Linked DNA regions of Homo sapiens: regions 2, 3 and 4 are each linked to region 1. The links come from fine-mapping of genetic effects on gene expression. A gene starts in region 1. Each other region holds a variant in brackets. All regions are shown on one strand. Distances are between the middles of the regions. Region 1 holds the start of RTKN2 (rhotekin 2). Region 2 overlaps LINC02621 (long intergenic non-protein coding RNA 2621). Region 3 overlaps ARID5B (AT-rich interaction domain 5B). Region 4 overlaps RTKN2 (rhotekin 2).

Evidence for each region. PIP is the estimated chance that this variant, and not a neighbour inherited with it, causes the effect.
Region 2: its variant is the best candidate, but not a certain one, in a credible set for the expression of RTKN2 in esophagus mucosa (GTEx, PIP 0.59).
Region 3: its variant is the best candidate, but not a certain one, in a credible set for the expression of RTKN2 in whole blood (INTERVAL, PIP 0.79).
Region 4: its variant is the best candidate, but not a certain one, in a credible set for the expression of RTKN2 in whole blood (TOPMed, PIP 0.73).

What each region holds. Positions count from the first base shown.
Region 1 is chr10:62,266,446-62,271,594 of GRCh38, forward strand. It overlaps RTKN2 (rhotekin 2), which reads right to left and starts at 2,399. Exons shown (of 12, transcript NM_145307.4): 1 at 2,106-2,399. The coding sequence starts at 2,165. All of the region lies in intron 1 of LINC02621 (long intergenic non-protein coding RNA 2621), which reads left to right. RefSeq lists a silencer at 2,151-2,480.
Region 2 is chr10:62,294,836-62,299,991 of GRCh38, forward strand. The region is part of intron 2 of LINC02621 (long intergenic non-protein coding RNA 2621); the gene reads left to right. Among named protein-coding and RNA genes, the nearest start is that of RTKN2, 29 kb to the left of the region's middle. The variant A/G (reference allele first, on the strand shown) is at 2,608.
Region 3 is chr10:62,059,436-62,064,575 of GRCh38, forward strand. The region is part of intron 7 of ARID5B (AT-rich interaction domain 5B); the gene reads left to right. Among named protein-coding and RNA genes, the nearest start is that of ARID5B, 160 kb to the left of the region's middle. The variant C/T (reference allele first, on the strand shown) is at 3,189.
Region 4 is chr10:62,215,945-62,221,100 of GRCh38, forward strand. It overlaps RTKN2 (rhotekin 2), which reads right to left. Exons shown (of 12, transcript NM_145307.4): 8 at 2,251-2,357; 9 at 1,174-1,305. Among named protein-coding and RNA genes, the nearest start is that of LINC02621, 41 kb to the right of the region's middle. The variant T/C (reference allele first, on the strand shown) is at 2,139.

The DNA of each region.
Region 1 (5,149 bases):
GTTCTCATTTTGCTAAAAGAAACTGTGTGGATTTTAAGAATTGTTTATGTACAGAAAAAAGTCTGGAAATTGTTAACAGCGGCCATTCTGGGGAATGGAACTGGAGACCGAATTCTTAAATTCATGTTTCTGTATATGTTGACTTTTCTGCAATGAGATAGTATTACTTTTTGAATTTTATTTTTATTAAGATGCCAAAAGCTTAAACATTTGTAAGAAAAGTAGGGGACTGCCCTAACCACTCAGATGAATAGGACAAAGGATAATAACAACAATAGTCATCTCTGAAGCACATCCTGAGTGCTAGGTGCTGTGATAAGTACTTTAGAGAGGTTCTCCAATTCCAACAGCTGTCTGGGATAGGCGGAATACCCAAGCTACAACGGTGGAAACTGAAACTTAGAAAACAGAGATAACTTATTCAAGGTTGCACAACAAGAAGAGTTTGGTTTGACCTGAATCTGACTCCAAAGCCAATACTCTATGCTGTGAGGAGTCGCAGAGGACTCCAGGGTTTCAGCAGAGGTGTTTGACCAGTGTGTGACCACCTCAAAATCTTTGGCCTTATCTCGATTACGTGGCAGCTTCATTCATGTATCAAAGGAAATACCAAATAAAAATTCAGTGTTAGTCAAGTATAAAATTATCTGACTCTCAATATTCCTGTTAGGTTGCAACCTACTACTATTTTGTGTTTTTTCTTCAAATCCAAACTGAGGAAGTAATTCCACATTTCAATCATTTTGATTTTGTCCTGCCTAAGAAATTAAGTATTGTATCTTCCCACATGTAAATAACCCAGGCTTTATGTATATTTAAACATTTATTTTCATTCCATGCAACTAAACTTCATGATTTTATCCTCTTGTCGCTTCTGTACCATTCCTATTCTTGCAGCCTGCAGCTCAATAAATACACCTGGACAGCTACACCTACACCTATATGATAGGTGCAAGAACATCAATAGAATGGCAATTCACTATAAATCAAGATTTTGTTAGCAATCAGGACAGCCAAAGTACATAACAGGACAGGACTGAAAAAAAGTACATCAAAATCTTTGAAATTTTTGAAAATGCTGGCATAAAACAGCATAAGTATTACTGATAAAGACACTGGACTTCTTTTGCATAATGAATCTTAATGTCTTGCTTTATTTTTCACAGTATTATTGAAAACTAATAATTTTGTGTCTGCTAAGGAAATCCCAGATTTTTAAACAAAGATATCAGGTGCCTCCATATGAATGAAATTGCAAATATTCTACCAATTTTGACCTACAAAACTGGCAATTTCATATGGCTTAACCTATTTCTGAAGTAGGTAAAAGAAGGTAGAGATTAAAATAGAAGTGAAGGTCCAGCTTAAAGACATCAGAGTTTTCTTTTAAGACCCTAAAGTTATGGTTAAGAGTGAAAAGTGGTAACATTTTAATAACTGATGCTGCCAAGAAATAATGTTGGTTTAGTAAAAAGTAAAATAAAAAGGTTTCTAACGCATTTTACATGGCTCAAAAGCAAACATCAAACTTCTATCCAATGTCACGTGTACTCCCTCTTTCCTTTCAAATGATTTGAGAAAGAACCCAGTATCAAACCTTCAACTTTTTCTAAAGTGCAGAGGTTGCTGTTTGCCTCTACTCCGCTCCGAACCCCCTCCCCCCAACCAGTTCTGTGTTGTGTGTAGACATCGCTCCATTACTGTGCTTCCCATTAAATCCGTAATAAGCCAGCTGTCCACTGGCCTCGCTGGGTTTCTTGGGAATCGAGGGGCTCCCATTTCCCCGGCATCACCTACACCTGCAAAAAGACAGGCGTCCAAAGCCTGGGGAGGGCAGCGGACAGGTGCGCCCGCAAACGCGCGCCTGGACCCCGGCACCGCCTTCCCAATCCGGACCTCAGCTGCCTGAGAAACTCGGGGGTTCCGATGTCCAGGCCCTTTAGAGCCCCAAGAGCGCAGTCTCCTAATCCCTCCCTTTGTTTCTGGCCACCGCTGAAATAGAGGAGCGGGGGAGAGGCTTTCCCGACTCCTCCACAAAGCAAATGCGCGAGGAACAGAACCCCGGCTCCCTCACCTTCCGCGGCAGGGTCCCTCCCGCAACTCACCTGCTGGGTGGGAAGCCCCGCCAGGCGGAGCGCAGGACCCCTCAGGCTCGGCCCCTCCATCTCCAACGCGAACTGTCCGGGCCGTCGCCACTCCTTCAAAGGGAAGATTTGAAAAGCCCGCCCCTGGCAGGAGCCGCAGAGGACGCCAACCGCCCGGCCGTACCAAGTCCCAGTCGCAGGGGCCGGGGGCGCAGGAGGAGCCGGGCCGAAGCGCACGCGCAGTGGGCGCGCCTTGCGCTCTGCAGCTCCCGCCGCCGGAAGTTGCCGAGACCCCAGGCTCTAGCGCGGCGGGGCGGGGGAGAGGGCGGCGGTGCCGGACTTAAGTCCCGGACAGGGATGTGGGCGGGCCTGGGACGGGAGTGGGAGGGGCCGCGGGGAAAGCTTCGGCGGCGGAGCGCACCTGTCCCAGCTCAGGTTTCTGGCTGGTGGTTTTCGTGGCACGCCCTTTGCACTGGGAGCTTTCTGCCCGCATCCCACCGAAGGCCTTCCAAAGTGATCGTAGCTGGACAGACTCGAGGCTGCAGTCCCTGTACTCCCAGACAACTCAGGAACCCACAGCGTCACTAAGAGCCCACGGTCTCGTTCCTAAAGAACCAATAACATTACTCTCAAACACAGCGCTCTCTGTTTCCTCTCACCTTTCCCAGCGTTGTCACCAGGGTCACCCAGATATCATGGTTTTATTCATCAGGTTCGTGAGATACTATGTCAGGCATTTCACAAGGTCTTGTCTTTGCCCCCAGTGTTTATAATCCCAGATGTTCCCCGCCAACTACTCTGTCCACTTACTTTGTTTTCTTGCGAAGGATTTCTTTCAGCTCTCTCGCCCTCTCTTTCCCTCTCCAACATCTAAGGTGATAGCAAAATGGGGTACTATTTCTCAAGAGCCTCATTTCTTGCTGCCCTAAAGATTAGCACAAAGACCCATTTTAATTCATGGATTTTGTTAATTATAAAGGGAAACATGGGATTTTTAAAAATCAAAATGAAAGCAGCAAAGATATCACACCCTTGAAAAGTCCTTAAAATTCATTGTCCCTAGTTTATCTTTATTTCCCCCTTGAAAAGGCAAGAGGAAGCCTCTTCTTGAAGAGTCTACCAAATCAACCCTCCAGCCCTCATCGCCTAGAAACCCTTGGGCATTTTTCCTCCATAAATAGGTGCCCATGTTTTTTCATTTGCCTGGGACAGACCCTGTCTGGGTCTGTTGTCCCAATGTTGCACCAATCTTGCACTTATCCCGTAGTGGATATTATGTGGTCATTTTAACTGCAAGACCCTTTTAAAAGCAGTTGGTTTGAGAATGTACTTTAAAAATATAATGGATACCCTTCCTCAAATAGGTAAAATGCCTCTTTAAGACCTTTTGGACTAGGTGATACTAGAAGCTTCCCAGTTGGGAATGATGGTCCCCTTGCATTATGAATGACCCATATCCTTACAACAATAAAATATGTGTTCAAAATTATCAACACGGAGCTCACCTCGTTTTCTACAAACACAGGTCTGAATTTCAGAATCATTATGTGCCCTTTCCTCCAATGCACATCTCTGTCTTATGCTACCACTTTGTGGTATAATTATCTCCTACTCAGTATGAGGCTGCATGAGCCTAGCTGTAGTACCTGACTCAAAAGAAAAACACACCGCGAGCCCATCATCAGACACATAGTACTTACAACACATACAGCTCTCAGTTGCAGATCAAAATACATGTAGAAGCCAGCACTTCATTAAAACAGAGGTGAGTCAACCAGTTTAGAATTGGACACTGATAGAGGAGTATTTGATGAGTTAAAACCAGATATTTAACTGGAGATACATTTATTTATGATACTAGAAGAAAGAGATTAGGCAAGATCATATTTAGTAATTATCTGTAGAATACAGTTGTTACAAGAGACCTTTCTCTTGGGAGAAGAAGTTATGATGTGGTCCTGTTTTTATTATACACCGGGAGAGGTCCCCAGGAATTGCTTAAGTACTTAATTATTATATGATGATTAAAATACCTTGGAGTAGGACTTATGTTTCCTTATTTATCCTCAAGTCCTTACTTGTTACTGCTAATTTCATCAGCCAGTTTTCTCTGGTGTATGTAATGCACATAAAATATACTCATCCATGGAAACTACAAAATTTAAAGAGTTCATATGCAGTGGCTTCATTAGCTTGAGGATTTCTCTATCAATCTATTTATTTTACAGTTCCCAGAAAGTGAGAAGTACTACGTTTTACCATCTCAAATATCTGAGAGAGAACATTTGGGCATCTCTTAACCCATCATCCCTGGGCTCTTACAGAAGGTCGATATCCACCGAACTGCCCAGATGTAGTAGCTTCAGCTAGAGGATGAGTGATGGAATTACTGTCCTACCAATATTACTTCTCACTATAAGGTCAATATTTAATACTAATTAAAAATATACGTATATTAGTTATCCCTAATATAGCAGATAGTATTATAATAAATTAAAAACTACAGAAGCCAATCTAGATAATACCAATAGATGCCAAAGTATATTTTTCTTCTCTTATTTTCTGTATTCTTGTTTTAAACTAAGAGGCTAAAGGAAAACACTGAACTTAAAATCAGCTCTCTGTTACACAACAGATCCATTATTTTGAAAAATGTGGTTTGACACAGAACAGATAACTTGTGATTTTGAATATCCTCCTAGCCTCTCTTATAAAAAAAAAGTCCTCTTAAAAATTCTCTTGGTGCTTTCTTTTACTCATCTGTTCATCTTGTAGATAATCTGTTTAGGTTGAACTGAATAAATTAAAGTTATATTTTGAATTATATATGGAAGAAACAGAGAGAAAGAAGGAACTGAGGTCAAGGTGCTAAGCAGAAGTGCAGCATTTTCTTAAATGAATGTCTATGAATAGCTGAAGCATCACATAATCAGAAGGAGGCTATGGAATGTGGAGTCTGAGGATTTATTAGCCCGATTACCTTGGGCAAGCCACTCAGTTTTCTTATCTATAAAACAAGTATATAATACCCATCTTGTTTTTTAAAGTTGTTGGGAGACTCAGAT
Region 2 (5,156 bases), 28 kb after region 1:
CACTTTATTCAAAAATTAATTTTAAATGAATAATTTAACCTAACACTTTTAGAATGAAACGTAGGTTAACAATCTTCACGACTTGGGAGTAGGGAAAAAATATATATCTATATTTTATATATATACCTCAGGCATATATATGTGTGTGTGTATATATATATAGGTATATATGTGTATATATATATAGGTATATATACGTGTGTGTATATATATATATAGGTATATATATGTGTATATATATATATACCTCAGAAGTTGGTTTATCATGCTGTGGTGAGCCTGTCTTTCCATTTAATATATATATATATATATAAAATGGATTATATATATATATAATACCAAAAGCATAATTCATAAAGGAAATATTTATAAATGATTATTTATCAAAATTAAAAGATATTTTCTCTGTGAAGGACACTTAAGAGAATGAAAAGAGAAGTTAAAGAGTAAGATAAAATATTTTCAAATCGCATATTCTACAAAAAAGACCTGTATCCAGTATACATAAAATTCAACAATACGAAAGCAAACTCCCTAAGTTAAAAAATGAGCAAAAGACTTGACTAGACACTTCATCACAAAAAATATACAAAAGGCAAATATGCACATGAAAAGATGCTCAACATTGTTAGACACATAGGAAATGCCAATTAAAACAAATGAGATATCACTTTAAGGCTATTAGAAGTTTAAAAAAAGGTAATATCAAATGTTCTGCCACTGAAACTCTAAATGTTCTGCCACGGAAACTCTCAAACATTGCCAGTGTGAATACAGAATGGTACAACCACTGTGGAAAAGAGTTTGGCAGTTTCTCATAAAATTAAACATACATTTATGGTCCAGCAATCTCACTCCTAGGTATTTACCCAAGTGAAATGAAAACCTATGTTCCAGTAAAAATCTATATACAAATGTTTATAGCAGTTCTCTTCATAATAGCTAAAATTGGAAACCACCCAAAGGGTCAATAGGTAAACAAAACTGTGGTTCACCTTTCAAAAAGTGAATGTGTAAACAGGACAGTGGTACAAACATCCAATTGAATACTACTCAGTAACAAAAAGGAACCAAACTATTGATACACACAGCCGCTTGAGTGTATATCAAAGACATTGTGCTGAGTTAAAGAAGCCAATTTCAAAATGTTACATGCTATATGATTCCATGTAGATGATCTTTTTAAGAAGAAAGAGTTATGTCAATGGAGAACAGTCCAGTGTTTGCCAGGGGTTGGGGTTGAGGGAGAATATGACTACAAAGGGGTAGCATGAGACTTTTTTTTTGGTGTTGCGGGACTGTCTATATCCTGACTTTGGTGGTGGTGGTTATATGAATCTATATTTGTGTCAAAATTCACAGAACTATACTCTTTCAAAAAATCAATATTATCATGTTTATTTTTAAAAAATTAAAAACAAAATAGAAAAACCCTCCCAGCACTCCCTATGCTCCTAAAGAAATAAAAGAATAGTCAAGACAATTTTGAAAAGAAAGAACTTGGTGAAAGGTTCTATTTTGTTAGATATCAAGACTTATTGTAAAGTTATATTAATTAAAATGGTATGGTATTTTCACAAGATTAGACAGACCAATGAAATAGACTGAAGCCCAGAAATAGATCTATGCATAGACAGATATCTAATTTATGAAAAAGGTGGCATTACAGAGCAATGGACAAAGGATGGTCATTTAAATAGATGGTGCTGGGACAGCCTGAGTGCCTATACAGAAGAAAGATCAACTACAAGTTATATTGTAGGTCTAAATATGAAAGACAAAACAATAAAGCTTTTGGAAGACAATATGGAAGAATGTATTCATAGCCTCAGTGTGGGGAAATATCTATTTAAACAGAATAAAAATACAAATAAGGCTATTCATCACAGTTGTTTATATAATAAATAGAAATAATCCAAGTGTTCAATAATCATAAAGGCTTAAATTATGAATGGAATAAATATTACCATGTAAGTAATCTTTTAAAATAATATTTAATAATATGGCAAAATGTTTGCAATATAACATTAAGTGACAAAAGCATGAGCTAAACTATAAATATTTGTTACTAGAAACATATTAGAAAATAAATATACAAGATATTATCTCTGGTCTTTGAGTCAGATTCCTGACAGGATATGGTTAGCACACTCAGACTAGGTATTTTGAAAAGCATTTAATAAAGGAACATTTTACAAAGATGTGAGAAGGATTTAAAGAGAGAGATTGCCAGAACCCAAGTGGGTGGCTGTGTGCAGTGGGCTGTCTGACAGGAGCCCTTTCATAGACAGATGCAGTAGGGAGTGAACAAGGAGAGTAAATACCCCAGTCTCTCTCCTCCACCCCTCCACTCTCCTGCTGGTGCCTCCCATTGTCCAAGCCCAACTGGAAGGCACAAGGCAAGGAAGCTGGTTGATGCAGCCCCTACAGATCAGGCTCCGAGGGGACAACACAGGGTGAAGAAAGCAGGAGAGTGGATTTGCAGGGGCACATGGGCGGCATCCAGTATATCTGTATGGTGGGATTAGTGGTGATGATTTTTTTTTTTTCATTATAGGTTTTTTTTTTTCCTCCAAATTTCAAGAAAGAACATGCATTAAAGTGGGG[A/G]AAAAGTGTTATCAAACCCTAGACATATTATCTGAACATCTAAACATAGCATGTGTTAGGGGCTGGGGAGTATGTGCATGCAAGGGAGTGTACATATATCCCTTTATTGTAGAACCTGTCATTCATCTATATCTGACACTTTTCTGCCTGTATGATGGTTATTTACTGTCACTTCCCACCACAATGTAAACTCTCGGAAAGCAGGGGCCCCATGGATCTTGAACACCATCATCTCCACCTAGAGTGCCCACTCATAGGCACTCAATTCTTAGTTTAATGAATGTATGTCCACCACACATGTCCATGCATACATGCACCAAGCAGGGAACGGGGGATGAGAAGGCCATCTCCCTGTTAATTATTAATACCGAATGAGTACAAAACACCTTTAGGTCTGTTTTGAAATTCAGTGCTGAAATGATGATAAGTGGTTATTTAATCTTACATAAAATTTCAAAAGTAAAGTCCCACTTGCCAAGAGAAAATTGTTGGTTTTTACAGAGCATACTATTTCTTTTGAATATTAACTACGCAATTATACCTCAGAAGTTGGGTTGCCATGCTGTGGTGAGCCTGACTTTCCATTTAATATAAACGAACAGATGTTCCGTGCATGCTGGGGACAGGGGAATCTGTCCTCCTTTCTCTTGTTTCCCACCCACAACCCCGCTGACTGTTCTCCACATTGTGGGTACATCCACTCTTCGAATTATGCAACACAGAATCAGGAACCATGCTCCCAGTTTCTTGGCATTAGATCACCATTTTGCTTTAAAAAGAGAAGTTTTTGAGGTTAATCATAAAGGTAAATGAAAGTTTGGAACAACCCAGGGAGAAGGAGTGGAGGCTCAGGGATAAAGTTTAGAGGCAGAATACAATTTGTGAGAGTTAAAAGATAAATTTAGAATGTGTTATTTCGAATCTAATTACATTTCCAGCGGCAGTTGCTGACCAAGGACTAAAATCTTGATATCTTGATTCTAATCAGTAAATAAAGAGAATGAGAATTTATCTTCTAGGAATTCTACTTAAATAATTTTGAAATTATTTTGTTACTAAACGTTTTCTTGCATGTGCCTTCTAATATATTTTGTTTCAAGTCCATGCTATAAGCCATTATTAATGGTTTGCTTCTTAGGAATTTATGATCAAGACATACAGGAGAGCCCCTTATTTTTTGGGTTCCATCTTCCACATCTGGTGGGAATTGGGGTGTGGAAAAGGAACTGCCCACAGGGTAGCTCTGGGAAGTGGAAGCTTTCAGGGAGTCAACGCAGAGAAGGCTGACAGCTAAGAAGTGTCATGTACCTGGAAGGACCATCCAGTGCAGAAGGGGAGAGGACTAAGGTCACTAGTCCTGTTGAAGGGCAAAGGTGAAAAGATAGAGTGGCAATAATGTTGGTTACCAGGAAGTTTTCTAGATACTATAATTTTGGTTTTAGTTGTTTTAAAAATGGGGTGGAACCAACAGAATGTTTCTACTGTTTCAACTTCCCAAGTAAGAATGTTGTGGCAGCCACTACAAGCTACCTAGTCAGTAGCCATTCCCTCCTTCTCTTCCTTGCTAATAGTCAGACTTGTTCAGTTAGACAGGACAGATCCCTGACCATAGGAAAGATTGGCCTCTTCTTCAACCCTAAGGGTGAATCATGAGACTTTAGACTAGTGCGGTAATTCATTCATTTATTCAACAATTGTTAATTGAGTACTTACTATGAATCAGGCATAATTGTAATCATTAAGGATACAGCTCTGAATGAAACAGATAAAGTTCTTGCCCTCAAGGAGCTTATATTTTAGTGAGAGGAGATGAACGATAACTAAGTACATAAGCCAAGAGACTATGTCAGAAGGTGGGCTAGGGAGAACAATTAAGCAAGGTGAGCTAGGAAATGATGTATTGAGAGGTCAGGGATGGTGGTTCTTTTACATAGGATGGTTAGAGGGGACCCGTAGGAGAAGGGAGTGAGTCATGCCAGTATCTGGAGGCTGGAAGGCCTTGAGGAAAAGTCAGCCTGGGTGTGTTCAAAGACCAGCAAAGAAGCCAGGAGGTTTGGAACAGAGAGGGGGAAAACAGAAAGAGACCCAATCAGACAGGGAACACAGAAGATGAGTAGGAGGAGGTCAGATTGTGTAGGCCCACTACACTTTGGCTTTTACCCTACCTACAATGGGAAACTGCTGGAGGATTTGAAGACATGATTTGCAATTTGTTTTAAAAAGAGCTCTTTGGCCGTCATGATGTCCCCTGGTCAGTGATTGGTCTAAAGATTGTCATCTGACCCTGTTCTGTCCATTTACTGTGGAAGTCTTCTGTTGTCAAATTAAAACTAAACTAAACTAAACTAAACATTATGAATAGAAGGCACTTGCCTTTCCCTGCTTCTTTCTGTCTGGAGCTTTGATGTGATGCTTGGACTTGTAGCAGCTGTCTTGCTACCAAGAGGGAGAAAGGCATCGTGCTGTGGATGGTAGACTAGACATATAGATGGAGCCTGGGTCTTTGATAACATCACTGAACACTTATAGCAGCCCTTGATCTTCTACTT
Region 3 (5,140 bases), 210 kb before region 1:
CCGCTTTGGAAACAGTCCCAATTAGTTCCAGGTTTGGCAAAATTGTAAACTTGTCGTAAAAACTACAAGTGGAAAACATATGTAACTCTCCCCTGTCAGGGAAATTAGTTGGGTCTGTAATTTTTTCCCATGTTGAGAAAGGGCTATTATTGTACAACAAGCCAAGATTGCATAAAAGAAATTTCCCTTGGCAACATACCTGACATCTGTTCATGTCTAATATGGGAAATGTATTAAAGGCTTTCAAAAGTAATCAGTATTGGCCATTAAGGAATAGAATGCAGCAGAATCTCCTCTCATTCTAGGGCAAAGAAGCTTTATTAGACAAGGGTCAGTGCTGCATAAACAGGAAGTTATCAAACTTATTCGGAACAGGCTCTGACACTCTTTATCAGCTAATTCTAACTGACAGCAATGGGTTATTTTTAGCCCACAGGAAAATTTGATGGCCACGGATTTTTACAGCATGTATTTTGAACCAATGAAACATTACAGCAACAAACTGAGATTAAAATCTTTAAATAAGAAAGAGCTGCATAAATATAACCCACAGAGATGACATCTGTAATATAATCAATTGACATAGGAAGATGTTGTCATTGGGAATACTTTCTCCTCCACACAATGATCAGATTAAGTTGTGTAGTTTCTTCTTGCAATTGAATAAGAACTTATTTTTTCATTCCCTGAGAAGTAATCTGGGATATCTCTGTACCATAGTAAAATGACAGTAAGACACACAAAGTCAAGAAAATGAAATTCATTTTAGCCCAAACGTAATAACCAGTGCTTCTTGCCAGATAAAGCACATTGTTCCACAAACTAATATAATGGTTTGATGTGCGGGTCTTGGGATGGGGAAAGAGGACAAGCATTATGTGGTTCAGATAATCTGGTATTTTCTGTTGAGCTATCTGCTATGAATTCCGACTAAAAATTCTTTCATATGAATAATATGTGCTTGTAATATGTTTCATATATGGCGTATGTACACATGTTTATAAAGAAATATAGTCACATGGACTACATATAAAATGTGCATTTCATATTCATAAATTTACTTGAAATATTTATTTTATCAAGTGACCTATGTAAAAATAGTAATTTTTCACTTAGTGGAGTCTTTTGATAGGATCAGGATATGAACTCCTTGCCACTGTAGCTCATAGTTTATGGCAAAATCTTGAGCTAATTATAGCCCTCATTCATGTAAAAAAAAATGGTAACTTATTCAGGGTTAGTCTCATAAACGTAGAAGTCAACCCAATAGGCTAGACTTTCAAGTCTAGCTTTTAATGTTTAGAATAGGAATATACGTTTTTATATGAACCATGACTGCAGATAGTTATATGATATTGAACAATATTATGAAACGTCTTTTCACACTCTGGAACTTTTTGTTATTCACTGATAGGGAGAGTGCCAACAATTTCACAGAATCAGTTTTTCCTGCTTTTGTGTCTTCTGTATCTTCACAAAGATTTTTTTTCCATGCAACAGCAAGTTGATGTAGAATGTACAGAAGAAAGTTTAATAAATTTCAGGGCATTTGCAGTACTCTTTGAACAAATAGTATTTATCCTTTTGTTGGATGAATGAATGACCACACAATCAGCAAAACACCTGACCACATATTTACTGAGTACCTTATGTGTATGAGGCATTGTTTTAGACACTGTTAGATGCAAGGTTTCAGTCAGGCCAGTAATTTCAGTCCTTAAGTTGCTTACCATCCAAGAGAGCCAATAATGATCAAACAAGGTGGAAAAAGGTCAGTGCCCTACACAGGTAAAGTACTTACTCACGTAGAGATGAGAGAAGGAAGGCTTGATGGCTCTGAGGCCATTTGGGAAGAATTCTGGGGAATGGATAAAATTTAGACATGAATGATGGATTATGCCTTCCAGAAAGAGAGAATGAATCAAATAAGGGAAAATATATGGAGGTAGAATAAGGTTGGGCATGGAGAGTTTGAAAAACATAAAATAGAGTGATGAGGTGGCTGGGACAAGTGGCCCTGAAGGGAAGTTTCTAGAGAGAAGGATGGAGAGAAGATGGAACCAAGTGAGGAAAGTCCTCCGATGCTAGCTCCCTGATGTTAGGCCTTCAGATGCTAGGCCCTTTCATGCTGAGCCTCCAGATGCTATGCCCTCCCATGCCATGCCCCAAAGTTATTCATTAGGCTGTGGGAACTATGGAAAGTTGCCAGTTCCCCATCTCTGGTGATAAGAGTCGCCCCTCTTTCTGGTACTGTGTGGGCGCCTTCTCAATGGGAAATTTATGCCCTCCTTTTAGGCAGATAGGCAGATAAGGGGAGGGCAGAGAACTCTTCCTGCATCTGTTGGTTCTCTGTTGCCCTCATCTCAAAATAATCTTTATGCCAACGTGGCATAATTTAGGGGTGACATATTCTGATCCCCTTCACTGGGGCTGGGGAATATGGAGGATCAAATTGGCATCTGCTCTCCATCTGGTCATGAACAGAATTTTAAAAGGCATTTCTGCTTCATCCCTTCCTCATTTCCTTCCTTCCTTCTTCCTTTTTCTTTCTTTCTTTTTAAATGTTTCATGCTATAGATTGGCCCTGCAGATACTTCAGTTTGCCACCACTATTCTACATTTAAGCTTCTGAACCTCCTATAAGTACAGAATACATTTTTCTCTTGGCATATTTTGACTAATAAAACTGTGAGATGTTCAATGGGCATTGAATTTTGAAGTCAGTCCAGGAGATGTACAAATAATATCCAAAGTCTGAAGGCTTAAGCTGTCATCACAGAGTTACTAGAGGACACTTATCTTTGACATGATCTGATATCAGAAACGAGTGTAGACTTGTAGTCATTTAGAACTCAAAAGAGATCTTAGAGTCTTCTAGATCAGTGGCTCCTAAAAGCTACTCAAGAATAGGGCTCATGTTTTTAATGGGGAACTTTAAGTGGTTGTTTAGACCCCCACCCCAAGATATAAACTGTGGTGGGGCATGGGCCTGAGAAGCAGAGAATCCTTTTCTTTTAAGCTGCCCAGGTGATGTTAATTCAAATCCAGTGATAACAGTGATAAGTAACACTTAGCCAAGTGTTTCCCATGGCTCTTAGCTTCAGAGTGTGACCCCTATCTAAGTCAAGTATCAAAGATTTTTCTTCATGCCATTACTACAGAAACAGGGTAGAATACTCATATTCCTT[C/T]GGCTCAAGAGCAGCAGAGAGTTTCTGACAAGTATTTTTGCATTTGGTAAAATGGTAGTCTAAGTTGGAACTCAGTAAACTATTTTTGTTTTCAATGAGGGGAAGTGTAGAACTGTAGTACTCTCAAATTATTTTTTCTCAAATTGGCCTTTGTGCAAAAAAAAAAAAAAAAAAAAAAAAAGTATGCCTGCTGTGCCCCAGTTCATAGCCTCATTTTACAAGCGAGAAAACTGAGGCACTGGGAGATGAAATGAGTTGCATGGGATCATCATGGCTTTCTTCAAATTCTGACTCACTGAGAATTTGGTACACAATTGTCTCACCCTCTGTAGCGTTGCTGAAAGAGATTTATAAATGATTATTCTTTGTGGCTTTCCATTCCTAGCAATCACTAATCTAAAATGCCTCCTACATATTTGGGGCAATGTTTTGGGGAAAGGATCTGATAACCTGCCTTTTGTAGCATCTTTTAGTCTGTTTTGTAGCATCTTTTAGTCTCTTCTTTGTATTTAACATTTGTAGCTTCTTTTAGTCTGTTTTTTGTATCTAACATGAGCTTTACCAGATGTACTAATTACTAGCTGAGATTTTTATCTGACTCTTGAGAACAAAATGTGTGAATTCAGGAGATGAGTCAAGAAGTATGGATAATGTAAATATTCAATAATAGTAAAAAACTGCAAGTATAAAAGCTGTAGATGTATTGCTTCTGCGGTTAACTTGTGATTGGATAAAGACATCTCTCTGGAATCCCTTCTGGTTATAAAAAGAGGCCATCTTAATTGGCTTGTTTTTGTTTGTGGTTATAAACTATTCCAAACCTTCTGGTTTGAATTGCGGATTATGGATTATTTCATTTCAGTCCTCTACAACCATCAAATTGAATTAAAAAAAAAAAAAAGAGGAGCAGAAGTTTCATTGTAAGCCTTTATAGCATTTGACTAATGGCTATATGCAGTTCTCTCAGTCTCTTCTGCCTTTGCTGGAAATGTATAGAGTGTTTCTTCATCCTTAGGTTGAGAGAGCATAAATATATTGAATGGATTTGATTTCCTACAAAACAATATTCTGGCATTTTGATTAATTGACGAGGACCCTTCCTTTGCAATGTACCCAACTTTTCCTTCCAAACATTAGAATGTGGATCACCTACATTTGAAGAGGTAGAGCTGGATAAATCTTTGCTGATGAACTAAAAAGGCTTTCACTTCAGTGTCTGGTGAAGCAATTAATGCTGGAAGAGTAGCTTGGGGTATTACCAGGATGCAGCATATGGCGGTGGTTTGCTAAAGTGATTTCCATTTGGCTAACCACTTGATGGCAAGCCAGAGGCAGTATCTGGAGAGAAGGTAGAGTTGGGAAATGGGTCTTGAGTACATCTTGTCCTCAAGGCACAGGGTGATACACAGTGGTGCCTTCTAAGAATGTCAGTTAGCAACCCTTTCTCCTGCCACCAGTGAGACAGGGCCATTGTTCTTCATCTGGAAGAAGCCTCTTTCCTTGCTGAAAGGATTAGGCTTTGACATCAAATTCTGGCTTTGACATCATTTTTAAGACATCCTCTGAATCTAACCCTAGTTTTCTGAACAGGCAAAGCCTCTCGCTTAAATTCAAAATTCTCCAGGCCAAAGATGATGTCATGTAGTTTTGAAAGGCTCCAGTTCCTGGAGTACTACCAGGAAAAGAAAGTCATCTTCCTTGAATTCAGTCCACCCTCAAGGTGTCCTGAGAAAGAAGCTGTTTCTCAGAACAGCCCAGGCAACATTGCTTTCAGGCAAACTCTTCTGTTGACTTCGTATTTCCTACACATTCTTAAGCCACTGAAAGAGTTTAAGTCTGAAAGATTTCTGATACCTATTTCCTCACCAGGCTGCAAAAATACCAGAATTATTTCATTCCTGCAGCCTCAAAGATAGAGAAATCAAGGCTCCAAGAGCATGTCTTGAGCTAAA
Region 4 (5,156 bases), 50 kb before region 1:
TATAATACTGATGTATTATGTCCTTGATTTGTCAAAACAAAACAGTTTAAACAAAACAGTTAAATTAGGTGAATTTATATAATAAAAGGTCTCACTAAAAGACTTTCTGTAAGTAAAAAGCAGTGTAATTTCTAAAAGTGGAATAGAAACAGACAAAAATGTTATTATTGGAAAAGATCATGAAACTAAACTCAAGTCTTTATAGATCAGTAGACTGGTACCCACGCGTTTTCAGGAATACAACTATTATATAAAAGGACGTACAACTTTACATTCTTCTTTAAAGGATAATTTCAAAGACAAGGAGAACAAATGTGATGGCTCATGTTTTATCACACACTTCAACTACACCAAAGACAAGCAAAGTAGAACAACTAGAAACAATTAGGGGCAGCCCACAGGCAAAAACCATGATATTTTGGTTTAGAAATGCAATTATTTTAGAGTAGGAATGCTCTAAAAAATGAGGAAAGAAAAATCCTCTAATCAACACTAGACTTGAATAACAGACAAAGCTAAATTTAAGACCGTGAGGTAGAAGAAACTAAGTTTGCCTTATATTGAAGTTTTCCTATAGGATTCTAGATGAAAAAATTGTAGCTAGATTTCAATAGTCTCCTTTGTAACAAACCAGTATATATATACTTGACAAATTTTCTAGGTAGTGTGGTACTACTTTTTAAATGCAGTATAAGCACTCAACTATTCTAAATGGACTGTCAGGCTTTTCTGTTCTGTCAGAAGACTGGACAATTGCCTATCAATCCCATAAGAAATCAGAAAGTATAGTCAAGAATGTCTTTTTATGGCTTCATTTGAATGCTAACTAGAAACAGCATCACTATAATAACATGAGCTAACAATTTATGTTTAATCTCTTAAGTAAATTCATAAAAAATTTAAATATACTGCTAATGTGGAGTTACATTCTCTGCCTTAAAACCTATTTACTGGTATAGATGTCCATTACTATGTTTTCTTAGGAAATATACATTTTCTTATAACAGATAAGCTCTAATAGAAAAACAGAAACAGATTAAATCATATTTATGAAGTAACCTGTTTTTACCAGTACTTCTCTTTTATTTATAAGACAACAACAATGTAAACTGCACAGACAAAAACAAACTTCCTAAGATGTATATTTTTTTCTCAAAATAGCATTTCCTTTACCTTGTTAATGGGTACTACCAAAGCTGGTTCCACTTTAGCTTCAATTTCCTCTGGACTGTAAAAACAATAGAGTTTACCTCCTCGCAAAACACAATACAACCTTCTCCAACTAATCAGACCTTCTACCATTTGCTGAAAAAAAAAAAAAAAAAATCAAGAGACTATCAATTTTAAGTTATTATCACTTTAAATACATCAAAATACTTATCAAGGTTAAATTAGTTATTTAGAATTTTTAAAATGTGATGGAATTATCCATTAATTTGATATACAAAAGGTTAATTGCCCCAAATCCAAGAGTATGTTAATATCAGAGAAGAAAAGTTTGGAATTCTTAAAGGCATTAAGTGAAATGGAGGCAACGATTACCACCTAACTTTTACACACATAAAACCATAGATCAATGGTGTTTTAGAAAAGCTAGTCGATTAAAAATTAGTGCTTAGAATTCTATAGCAATTCATCAAATGACTCAGGAAAATTATAAAAACAATTCTGTATGTTCAAAATATTATTTTCCCTTACTGTTCTCAGAGCATCGGAAAATGTCAACTACCCTTTAAGAATGCAAATTTTCTTTCCTCCTAATGGAATCTTTTAGAAAAAGCTATTGATTCATTGAAGTTCACAATTAATTATTTACTGAATATAAATAACTATGGTTATAAATAAATCAGCAGTAGGTGGCACAGAGGCAGGCAGCTTTGGAAGCTCAGAGTCCTAAACCGTGCCAAACGCTGTCTGCCAGAAAGACCTTTATGTGAAAGGTGTTGAGCAGCCCTCATCAGTTTCCACACGGAGCCCTCTGTTGCTGATTATCCTGTTGCTGCTATTAATGAAGCAGAGGAGCATGGAGAGGTAGCGCCTTAGCCATCAACATCGCAGTAGATCCCTCCCTACCTTGTCATTCTTTTCACCCCGCACCCCCTACAGTTTATATCTGATAACATTTAGAAAACTGACAT[T/C]TAAAAAAAGACTTAAAAAATACTTCTCAATATCAGAAGGTGAAACAACTGCCTGTATATTAAGATTTAAAGTAGAGCTACAATTGTTGTAGGATATTTAAAGTCCTCTAACCTGCTGATTAAGAAATCCTGCAAATGCATCCTCAGCCATACAAGCTGGCTGGGCAACTAGTCGGCAGCACATGTTGCCATACAGGGGAAGCCAAAATGAAGACTCCTCTATTTAAAGGAGAAAGAAAAAAAAAAATCAAGTTATAAATATAAGTTTATTTAAGGTCATCATACATTTTGATTTTTCTCTTTTTACAATTTTGTTTTGCTTTGTACAGAACATATTTTAGAATTAGTTTCATGTAAAGATTCATCCTACCCAAATACCAGTGCCATATTAAGTGAGAAAATCAAATATGAGAATAGAAAGGACAGGATAATATTAAACTGACAGTTTATAGCATGCTATCACCTGAATAAAAATGAACTGTTTAGTCTCTTGTTTGATTTTAATTATTCAATGAAAGTTGTTCAGAGAATATAAGTGATCTCATTTAATATAAAAACATTCTAATAAAGTAATTTATGTTTGTCAAATTCTACTTTTTGTTCTGATTTTCATTATAATAATTAGAAAAGTGATCCTCTGAATAAAACATTATTTCACTTTGCGAGGCCGAGGCAGGCGGATCACTTGAGGTCAGGAGTTTGAGATCAGCCTGGCCAATATGGTGAAACCCTGTCTCTACTAAAAATACAAAAATTAGCTGGGCATGGTGGTGCATGCTTGTAGTCCCAGCTGCTTGGGAGGCTGAGGCCGAAGAATCGCTTGAGCCCAGGAGGCGGAGGTTGCAGTGAACTCAGACTGCACCACTGCACTTCAGCCTGGGCAACAAAGCAAGACTCCATCTCAAAAACAAAGCAAAACAAAAACAAAAAACATTATTTCAGAGAACTTAAGATAACTTCATCAACATTTTTGGCCCTTCCTCCTCCCCTTCTTTTGCTGAACAATTCAGTCATAAGCCATTAGATAGAGCCCCCAACATGAACATCTGTGCCAGGACTGGAGAAGGAGCTGTGGTGTGCTAGAAATGGATGATGGAGACAGGCAGAATGAGAATGGTGAGTAGCAGGGGCTGCCTGCAGGAGGTATCAGCACCTGAAGGGCCTGAGAGGGTGATGACACTGGGGCGCAGCCTAGATTTGGGACTCTGTCTTGAGCAAGCAGGGTAAAAGAGATATGCCTGGGAAGAGGAGCCTGACATCGAACATTAGAGCCCAATGAATGAAGAAGTAGCCCAGATTGAAGGACAATTAAAAAGCATGATAATTAAATGAAATGTATGATTCTGCATTGTATCCCTCTGCCATAAAGAACATTATTGTGACAATGGGCAACATCTTGAATGGACTCTGAGGATTATATGGTGGTAATGTATTAGTATTCATTTCTTGACTTCAAGAGTGATGATGATGTAGCTGAATGTCCTGATAGTAGGAAATATGTATTAATACATTTTGGGGTACAGACTATCATGTAAGCAACTTGCTGTCATAATTTTTTTGAGAAAAAAAAGATCTTGACATTTAAGCTGAGTGTGGTGGTGTCTGCCTGTAGTCCCAGCTACTCCAGAGGCCAAGGTGGGAGGAGTGCTTGCACCCAGGAGTTTGAGGCCAGACTAGGTAATATACCGATACCCATCTCTAATTAAAAAAAAAAAATCTTGACATTCAACTTGCAACTTTTCTGTAAGTTTGACATTGTTTAAAAAAGTTACTTCAAAAAACATTAAGATAGTCCTTTAATGAAGATACCTACCTGTGTACTACCTATCTATATGGAGGAAAGCATTAAATAATTTATTCTAGACATCAGAGTATAAATAAAAACCAAACATATGGCCCTTAGTTCACACTGGATCACATAAAAATGATTTTTAAAGTTTTGGCTGTGCCCTGTTGGTAGTGCCTACAAAATCGCTAGCTACTGGCCGTAACTATTATTCACCAAAAAGTTTTAATTACCCCAGAATTTTTTTTGTAAAAATAGTTAATATATACATGCAAGGCAGCAAAGGTTTGTAGTAAAACCAAAAAGTTTTAAATTTACCTACCCAAGATTCTACTATAGAATAGTACACAACAATGTTCTGAGACTATTCAAATCTTTTTCATTAATACATTTTAAAGCTGCTATATTTTAGAAATAAGGGGCTTAATCTGGGAAAAATAAATGCACGAGCATAATACATACAATTCCAAAATGCAAACACAAATAAACAAAAGTTATCTTTCCTAAAACAGGCAGCAAATGAAATGAAAATTCTGTAAAAGCATGTATTTCAGTAATACATCTGAAATCAACTTTGTGATTTGTAAATTTAGAAGTTTGAAAGCAAATTTCTTTATATAGGCAATCTCAGATTTATGAATAGCTTATGTTCTAAAAATCTGTAAGTTAGTTGAAAAGTACATCATAAAGAGTAAGAAACACGAAGGATACAATGAAAAAGACTAACATAGGTTTAACAGGCATGCAAAAAGAACAAAAGCTACACAACAGCAGAGGCAGTTTCAAACAGGTAGGAGAGATTTTGTCCAAACTGATGAAACATATCAACAATGTAAAGAAGCTCAAGAAACCCCAAGCAGCATAAATAAACTCTACACCTAATTATACCATGGTAAAATTTTAGAAAACCAAAGGCAAAAATAAATAAAAAGATTACACTCATAGTGGTGACATACTGGCAAATGATTTACAACATTTATAGTAAAATAATAAAAGCCAAAAATGTTGGAATTATATGTTCAATATTCAACAAGAAAAAATTAAAACTGCAGAATTAAGAAATATCTTCAATAATGAGGCAAAATAAAGCCATCTTCAGATAAACAAAAAGAACAAGAAGTCTGATATCAGCATAACTCACTAAAAGAAATTCTAAGGCTTATAATTCAAGCAGAGGGAAAAGTATCCCAGATGCAAGGCATAAGATACAAGTAGTGCACAGAAACATGTAG